Homo sapiens: one gene and its partner. The protein of the gene in region 1 purifies or fractionates together with the protein of each later gene. This does not show direct contact. Each region holds a gene or a part of one and is shown in the gene's direction. Other genes may lie near its edges. The genes, in order: SAMD9L and EEA1.

Region 1 (3,824 bases):
ACAGTAAGACAACTGGGCAGCTGGAGGGAAGTGAGCAGAAGTAATGAGGTCAAAAAGACAGTGGGGTGGACATATCATGTCAGACCTTATTTAAGGACTTTGGCTTTTACTCCATGCGAGATGAGAAGTCAGATAAAAGTTTTGAGCAGAGGACACTGACTAAGAGTCAGTGACATGATCACACTTACACTTTTGAACAGGACCAGGTTGGCTGTTGTGTTGAAAATAGAGTGAATGGCATGGTGGTGGGGCAAAGCCAGAGTCAAAGAGACCAGGTAACAAAAATAATCCAGGAAAGAGATGATGGCCTAGAACAGGGTGGTAGCAGTAGGGATAGTGGGAAAGGGTGGAATTATGGATATACTGTGAAGGTGTGATTGAAAGTATTTGCTAATACAATGAGTGAAAAAAAAAGCAGTAAAAAATGCTGCCAAGGTTTTTGCCTTGAACAATTGACAAGTTCCATTAACTGATAAGACTGTAGGAGGAGCAAGTTTGGAGTGGGAGGGGCATATATCAGGAGATCAATTTTGGCCATGTTCGTTTTAGGACTGTCATATACCTAGGTGAACATAGAGAAGGCAGATATATGGACATCATGGCAGAAGCCAGGGCCGATCATGTTAATTTGGAAGTCACAGGCATACAGATTGCGTTTAAATGCAAGATAGATGAGATTCATAGGGAGAAACTCTAGATAAAACTCTAGATAGAAAAGAGGCTAGGTCTGAGAGGCACGTCAACATTTAGAGGTGGAGAGTTAAGGAAGAACCAGCAGAGGAAACTGAGAAGGACTAGCCAGAAAAGGAGGAGGAAAAATCAGGAAAGGTAGTGTCCCAAAAGCCTGCAAGGAGAGTGATCCAAGGAAAAGAGAGCAATCACTTGTTTCAAGTGCTGCTGTTCTGTCAAGAACTGTCTGTAGCAATACCAAGTGCAATTTTAGTGGAGGAGTGAGGCCAAAGCCTGATTGGAGTGCCTTCTAAAGTGAGTGGAAGAAGAGAAACAGGAAACAGAAAGTGTAGACAGATCTACTGTGAAGAAAAGCACAAATGTGGGGAAGAGTTGTTTCCAAAGAGTCTTGCTTAACATGAAAAAAATAAACATGCTTGATTGCTGAAGGAGATCTAGTAGATGAGGAAAGACTGAAGAAGCCAAATAGAGTGGGGACACTTTCTGGAGCAACTTCCTGAATAGGTGAGAGGGATGCAAGGGCTACTGCAAGTGGAGAGGTTGACCTCACTAGGCATGTGGGCAGAACATGCAGAGAACAGAAACTAACATATGATGTAGTAACAGAAGAAAAGTGAAGACGCAGGTTGATGGGTAGATGTGGTTTCAGGAGTTTGGAGAAGCTCTCTTTGGATTCCTTCAATTCTGCCGGTTTAAATGGGAAACAAGGTGACCGTGGTGAGGAGGTGTTGTAAGTTTGATGAGAGAGGAGAGACAGTGAAATGATTGTTTAGGAGAATAAGAGAGTGACTACTGCAAGTGAAGAGGTTGACTAACGCAGAGAAATAAAGCATGGTAGCTGACAGCATTAAGGTGAGACCAGTCATGGTATGGAGGGCCATTGTCCAGCCATGTTCCAGTCAGGGTGTGGAGGGCCATTGTCCAGCAATTCTCCAGTCAGGGTATGGAGGGCCACTGTCCAGCATGCTCCAGTTAGGGTGTGGAGGGTCATTGTCCAGCCATGTTCCAGTCAGGGTGTGGAGGGCCATTGTCCAGCATGCTCCAGTCAGAGTATGAAGGGCCATTGTTCAGCATGCTCCAGTCAGTGTGGAGGCCCATTGTCCAACCATGTTCCAGTCAGGGTATGGAGGGCCATTGTCCAGCATGCTCCAGTCAGGGTGCAGAGGGCCATTGTCCAGCCATGTTCCAGTCAGGGTATGGAGGGCCATTCTCCAGCCATGCTCTGACAAGCTGTTGGGGACTGAGTGGGGACTGAGTGGGGACTGAGTGGTGGATGTAACTAGCATTGTAGTTTAACTATAAGAGTGTACCAGAGAGGAGAAAAATAAGTCATGATAATGAATAATCAAAGAAATATTAAGTCAGTAAAAGAGGAAAAGTGAAACATGAATGGAGTGAGGAAAAGTGAGACAGTAGTAGAATCAATAGATCAAAGGTGTTGGTGGTAAAGAAATACTTACTAGTGTTTGAGCACTAAAGGCAGTGGGTCTGAGGGGCAGGAGATGGTGGGGACAGGGAAGTGTTTGAAACAGAGAGGACGGAGGGCTTGTAGTTCTCAGTAACCGTATTTATTGGCTAGAGCTGCCATAACAAAGTAGCACAGAGTCACTTCAACAACAGAAATGTATTATCTCAGAACCCTTGCAACTAGAAGTCCAAGATCAAGCTATTGGCAGGGAGGGTTCCTTCTGAGGGCTGCAAGGGAGAATTTCTTCCATGCCTCTCACAGTAGCATGCTGGCAATCTTTGGTGATTCTTGGCTTGTAGAAACATCACACTAACCTCTGCCTTCGTCTTCACATACTGTTCTCCCGGTGTGTAAGCAAGCCTCTGTGCCCAAGTTTCCCCTTTTCACAAAAACCTCAGTCATATTGGATTAGGGTCCACTATAACTTCATGTCAACTAATTACATCTACAACAATCCTGTCTCCAAATAAAGTCACATTCTAAGGTGCTGGAGGTTAGGACTTCAGTGCCTGAACTTTGGCGCGATATAATTCAATCCATAATAGTAATGATAAGGTCAAGGATATGACCGTGGGAATAGAGGTGGGTTGATGTCAAGATAAAAGTCGATCGGGTGAGAGGCCATTGTATTGGAAGGATCAATGACATGTCTATTGAGCCACCAATAATTATGACAGAAATGGTATCTGAGGACACAAGTGTCCTCTTCCCTTCAGCTTCCTACATTTTAATACAAAATGTATTTAATACAAAATATATTAAAATGTCTAAAAACTGTATAAAATATATAAAAAGTAAGTATTCAGCAAATTTTCAAAGTATGAAATATCTTAAGACTAAGATTTAAAATACTATGGTAGTTATCTCATATGTAATGACTTCAAAAAAGTTTTCATTAAGGATATGTTTATTAATAACTGCTTATACTATTGGTTTTATATAATGCTTGTAAAAAGGTGAGGCAGGGCCCCTCTGTCGGTCTTACCTGAGATGACACTTAGGGCCTCGGCAGAGAGATGGGAATATCAGGGATGAGCCTACCGGGCTCCCAAGCTCCATCTGCCCTGGAGTACTCTATGGCAGGCCCAGTGCCCTGGCTCTGGGTGCAAGAGTAGGAGCTGCCCACTGCTGGAACAGCGCTATGTCATACCCCTTAGACCCACTAAAGGGGCCTTTGGCAGGTCCACCAAGTAGACTATTTCTTATTCCCTAACTCTGTCCCCCAGGCTTTCTCCCTCAATTGCCTCCCACATGACTCCAGCAGTTCCCTTAACTTCACCTGCCCAATGTTCCCACTCTCTTCTTCCTCATATATCCTAGGCCTAGACTCCTTCTTGTGTCTGACAAAAAGCACTACCACACTTTGTCAGTACAAACTTTTCTGAGTGTGTGTGTGTGTGTGTGACTTATTTCCTTTTTTTATCTTCTCCAATGGACAATAAATGTCATGAACGAGCTTCACATCTGTTTTGATTATCACTGTTTTTCCTGAGCATGATGCCTGGTACATAATTGGTGCTCATTAAATATGTGTAGAATGAATGAACAGATGACACTACTTAAGATAAATAACACTTATCGCTAGTTACAATATATGGGCTAATTTTTGTGGGACTCCTTAAGACCCACAAGTGACTTCTGTCTACACTACAGATGAACTGAATTG
Region 2 (3,824 bases), on another chromosome or scaffold:
TTATGATTTTTATGCTGAAATTATATTGATTTTATTCTGAAATTATAGGAAGAATCAAAGATTAACGAAGTTTTACCAAATAATTTTACCATAGTCATCATTTGTAAGAATAAAAGTAGTTACCCTTCAGCAATAGTTCTAATATTTTTGTAAAGTAATTAATAATCCCTTTGCATGTTATCTTGGCATATTGTGACTTTCAGTGAGGCTTGTTTGCTTTTTAAAGCCTTTGCACCAAGAATTGGCAGTTGGACTGAAAAAGACAAAAACAAATAAATAAATGACAAGATAATCAGTCTTATTACTACTCAGCTTTTCTAATTGGTGATTCTGTTAACATTAAAGGAGTTTTTAGTAATCCAAATTACTTATAACTCATTTACTCATGTTTTATATAGATGCCATTAATAATTAATTGAGTATGGGCTGTATTCTTTTCTGTATCTGAAAGCAGAGTGGAAATTGTTTACTGCATTTGAGATGACTATTTCACATTTAATACACTTAAATAACTTTTCCACAGTGCAAGATGTAAGTTACCTTGGCAGGAAATTTACCTTTTGGGGAAAATATATTTTAAATACTTAAGGTTCTTAGCAATCAGTATGTCTTAGTTCAATGTATAGAGAAACAAAAAGTCAGATATACTAGGAAATGCCTTATTAAACTCTTTCAGATGGGTATAATTCTTTAAAATATAAAAATAATGCCAAGGTAGTATATTATTTTGTTCCTAATACATGTGACAAATTAAGCCTTATGGAATCTGTTATTTCTGCTTCTTTTAAAGTTGACTTGTCCTGAATTAAAAATTTATGCTTATAAAGCCAATTTTTTTAGTAGTGATAGTTTGATAGCATTTTTTTTTTTTTTTTTTTTGAGACAGAGTCTCGCTCTGTCACCCAGGCTGGAGTGCAGTGGCGCGCGATCTCGGCTCACTGCAAGCTCCGCCTCCCATGTTCACAGCATTCTCCTGCCTCAGCCTTCCTAGTAGCTGGGACTACAGGCACGTCCGCCATCAGGCCGGCTAATTTTTTGTATTTTTAGTAGAGACGGGGTTTCACCATATTAGCCAGGATGGTCTCGATCTCCTGACCTCGTGATCCGTCCGTCTCGGCCTCCCAAAGTGCTGGGATTACAGGCGTGAGCCACCGCGCCCGGCCGTGATAGGATGTTTTAACTAATGCAAGTTTTAGTAGTGATAGCTTGATAGCATGTTTTAACTAATGCAAATGTTCAACTATTATAGGTGTTCTGTTTGATTGTAATAAGAAGCATGATTTGAAGTATGATTTCATGAATTGCATGGTTTATTGCCAAAGAGAGATTTTCTTCGGTTCACAGTGCTTAAAAGGGAGAGAAATAACATGAACAAATCTTACAGGGAATATCAATAGATGAGGTATATTAACCATATAGTGGGTGAGTTCCAAAATTATTAAAGTCTAGTCACTTTCTCAGGATGGAAGCAGGCTTTTGTGAAAAGTAAAGTCTAAAAGGGTTGAGGTGTACCTTTTTTTATGAGCAGTCTCTCTGGAGAGATGGCATCCAAAACAGTGGAGATCCCAGACAATGGGGATCTCCTGCTGCTAGAGGAGATGTAGGTGTTGGCTGCCGAGACTCAAAGATCTAAGGCCAATAGGATATGGCCCTATTGCAGCATGAGCTGCCAGTCTCAAAGAAAGCAGCTGAAAAAGTGCAGCCTGCCATGGCCTAAGCTTTCAAAGTATCTTTCAAACTCTTTGGTTAATATGTATTTTGAAGTCCAGTAGTTGAGGTCAGTAGCTCAGATCTGCGGTATGATAAGGTCTGATGTAATACTACTGAAGAGAGGAGAAGTTCATTCCAAGTTCTCACATATGGGGTCTAACAGGTATTACATGCTTGAGCGGAGGGGGATAACACTCCAAGTTCTTATGACAGCAAAATATGTAGCATCCATGTAGCAAACTATGTTAGTGTTAGAAGTTATTTCAAAGCTACATACTAATACGATTGAATGTTGCCAGTTGACTTAAGTATTTGTTTTAGAATCTATATTTATAATTACAATAATTGTGCTATTTATTTATTACTGAATTCATGGAATTTAAGATGACCATAATAACTTCATATATATTAACATACAAAAAAATCTATGTTAGAACTAATAAACTGAAGTTAGATCATTAGGCTAGTCTGCCTGCTGGTCTCTTACAGATCTGGAAGAATGGAAACCACCAAATTTAAATTTTCACCAAAATCTTACTACTTACCTGAAAGAAAGTGACTTTCAGAGATTTTTTAACATTGACCATTTTAACAGTATTATCTTTTCCTTTTAATTCATTTGTTTATGTCTTTTGTTTTAATTGAGGAGGCCAAACCTGATGGGTTGGTGACTGATTCATCAGCAGGTAACTTTACTTAAAGCAGATATTTTGTCAGTTTTCTTTTTCTTCTTATTTGTTTTCCTTTCTTTTTCTTTGATGCCTGCCAAATGAATTTTGTTTCATGGTTATGCTTTATGACTCTAAAACAGTGAAGATAATGGTCATATTCTAGGTGTAGAGAGTTACATGTGAACTTCATAATTTAATCAGTTAACTAAAAGTTTAGTTTTTTTAGTTCATTATATTTTGAAGTAAGAAACTTCTGGAATATTACATTAATATGGTTGTTTAATGAAATTTTAAGTCTATATTAAGAGTAAGATAGTTTATTTTCTTTATGATGAAGTATTAGGAGTTGACTGCATACTTTAATGAATTAAAAGGCCTTGAGATCTTAACCATTTCCAACATCCCGCTTTATAACTAATTTTATCAGAGGAGCAGAATGTTTTCCTTTTTGAGCCAGGCTTGGTGGCTCATGCCTATAATCCCAACACTTTGGGATACTGATAGGGGAGGATGGCTTGAACCCAGGAATTTAAGATCAGCCTCCGTAACATAGCGAGACCCCATCTCTTAAAAAAAAGATAAGGGGTGTATTCCTTTTTGGTCATTTGATGGATATGGGAAAATAACTGTGAAATGTGAAATCAAAATAACTTGTAATAAAATATTTATAGATTATTTAGCAGTGATTCTAAATATTCATTTCATTTGTAGTGTATGTTTGTAAATTATGATTTGTACCTTAAGTGAAGCAGATATACTTAATTTCTTGAAGTGTCAAAATACTACTTGTAATTGGATAATAAACTTAAGTTGATCATCTTTACAACTGTAATAAATATAAGTAATAACAATTTAGCATATGTAATTAACATGGTATTTGAATAACTGCGACACTTTTTTGTAGAACTACAGTCTTTGGAACAGCAATTAGAAGAAGCCCAAACAGAAAATTTTAATATTAAGCAAATGAAAGACTTATTTGAACAGAAAGCAGCCCAACTTGCTACTGAAATTGCAGGTAAATTGAGTTAGAATTTTTTAGCCAATAAATCAATCTCATTACCTTTTTGCCATTATATACCCTAGCAATAAATATAGTATTTTAGTGTGTTAAAGCATTTGTGATAGACTTCCAATGGTGATTAATGGAATTTAATGATTTCAGAGTTGCTATGTAAATTATTTTGTTTGTCCTCTAGCTGCCTGCCTTCAAAGGACTGGTGTTTCTTTGTAGATTCTTCTTGAAATTTAGAGAAGATACATTTTCTTCTGTGGCATGCTTAAAGATTAAAAAGGAACATTTTAAAGAAGTGAAGTAAATAATGTAGTATAAATGTAACACTTGGTTATACTATTACATATATATGTTTTTAACATGTGCTTTTAGGTAAAATATGTGATTAAGTACATTAAAATGCTAATTATTAACTTAATGTTGAGTGG

Evidence for each region.
Region 2: the proteins of SAMD9L (region 1) and EEA1 purify together in Homo sapiens (co-immunoprecipitation; one study listed by IntAct). This does not show direct contact.

What each region holds. Positions count from the first base shown.
Region 1 is NC_000007.14:93,138,170-93,141,993, reverse strand, and holds part of SAMD9L (sterile alpha motif domain-containing protein 9-like), read left to right. Parts: intron 1-3,824. UniProt on the Homo sapiens protein: May be involved in endosome fusion. Mediates down-regulation of growth factor signaling via internalization of growth factor receptors.
Region 2 is NC_000012.12:92,852,487-92,856,310, reverse strand, and holds part of EEA1 (early endosome antigen 1), read left to right. Parts: intron 1-2,356; coding exon 2,357-2,396; intron 2,397-3,285; coding exon 3,286-3,399; intron 3,400-3,824. UniProt on the Homo sapiens protein: Binds phospholipid vesicles containing phosphatidylinositol 3-phosphate and participates in endosomal trafficking.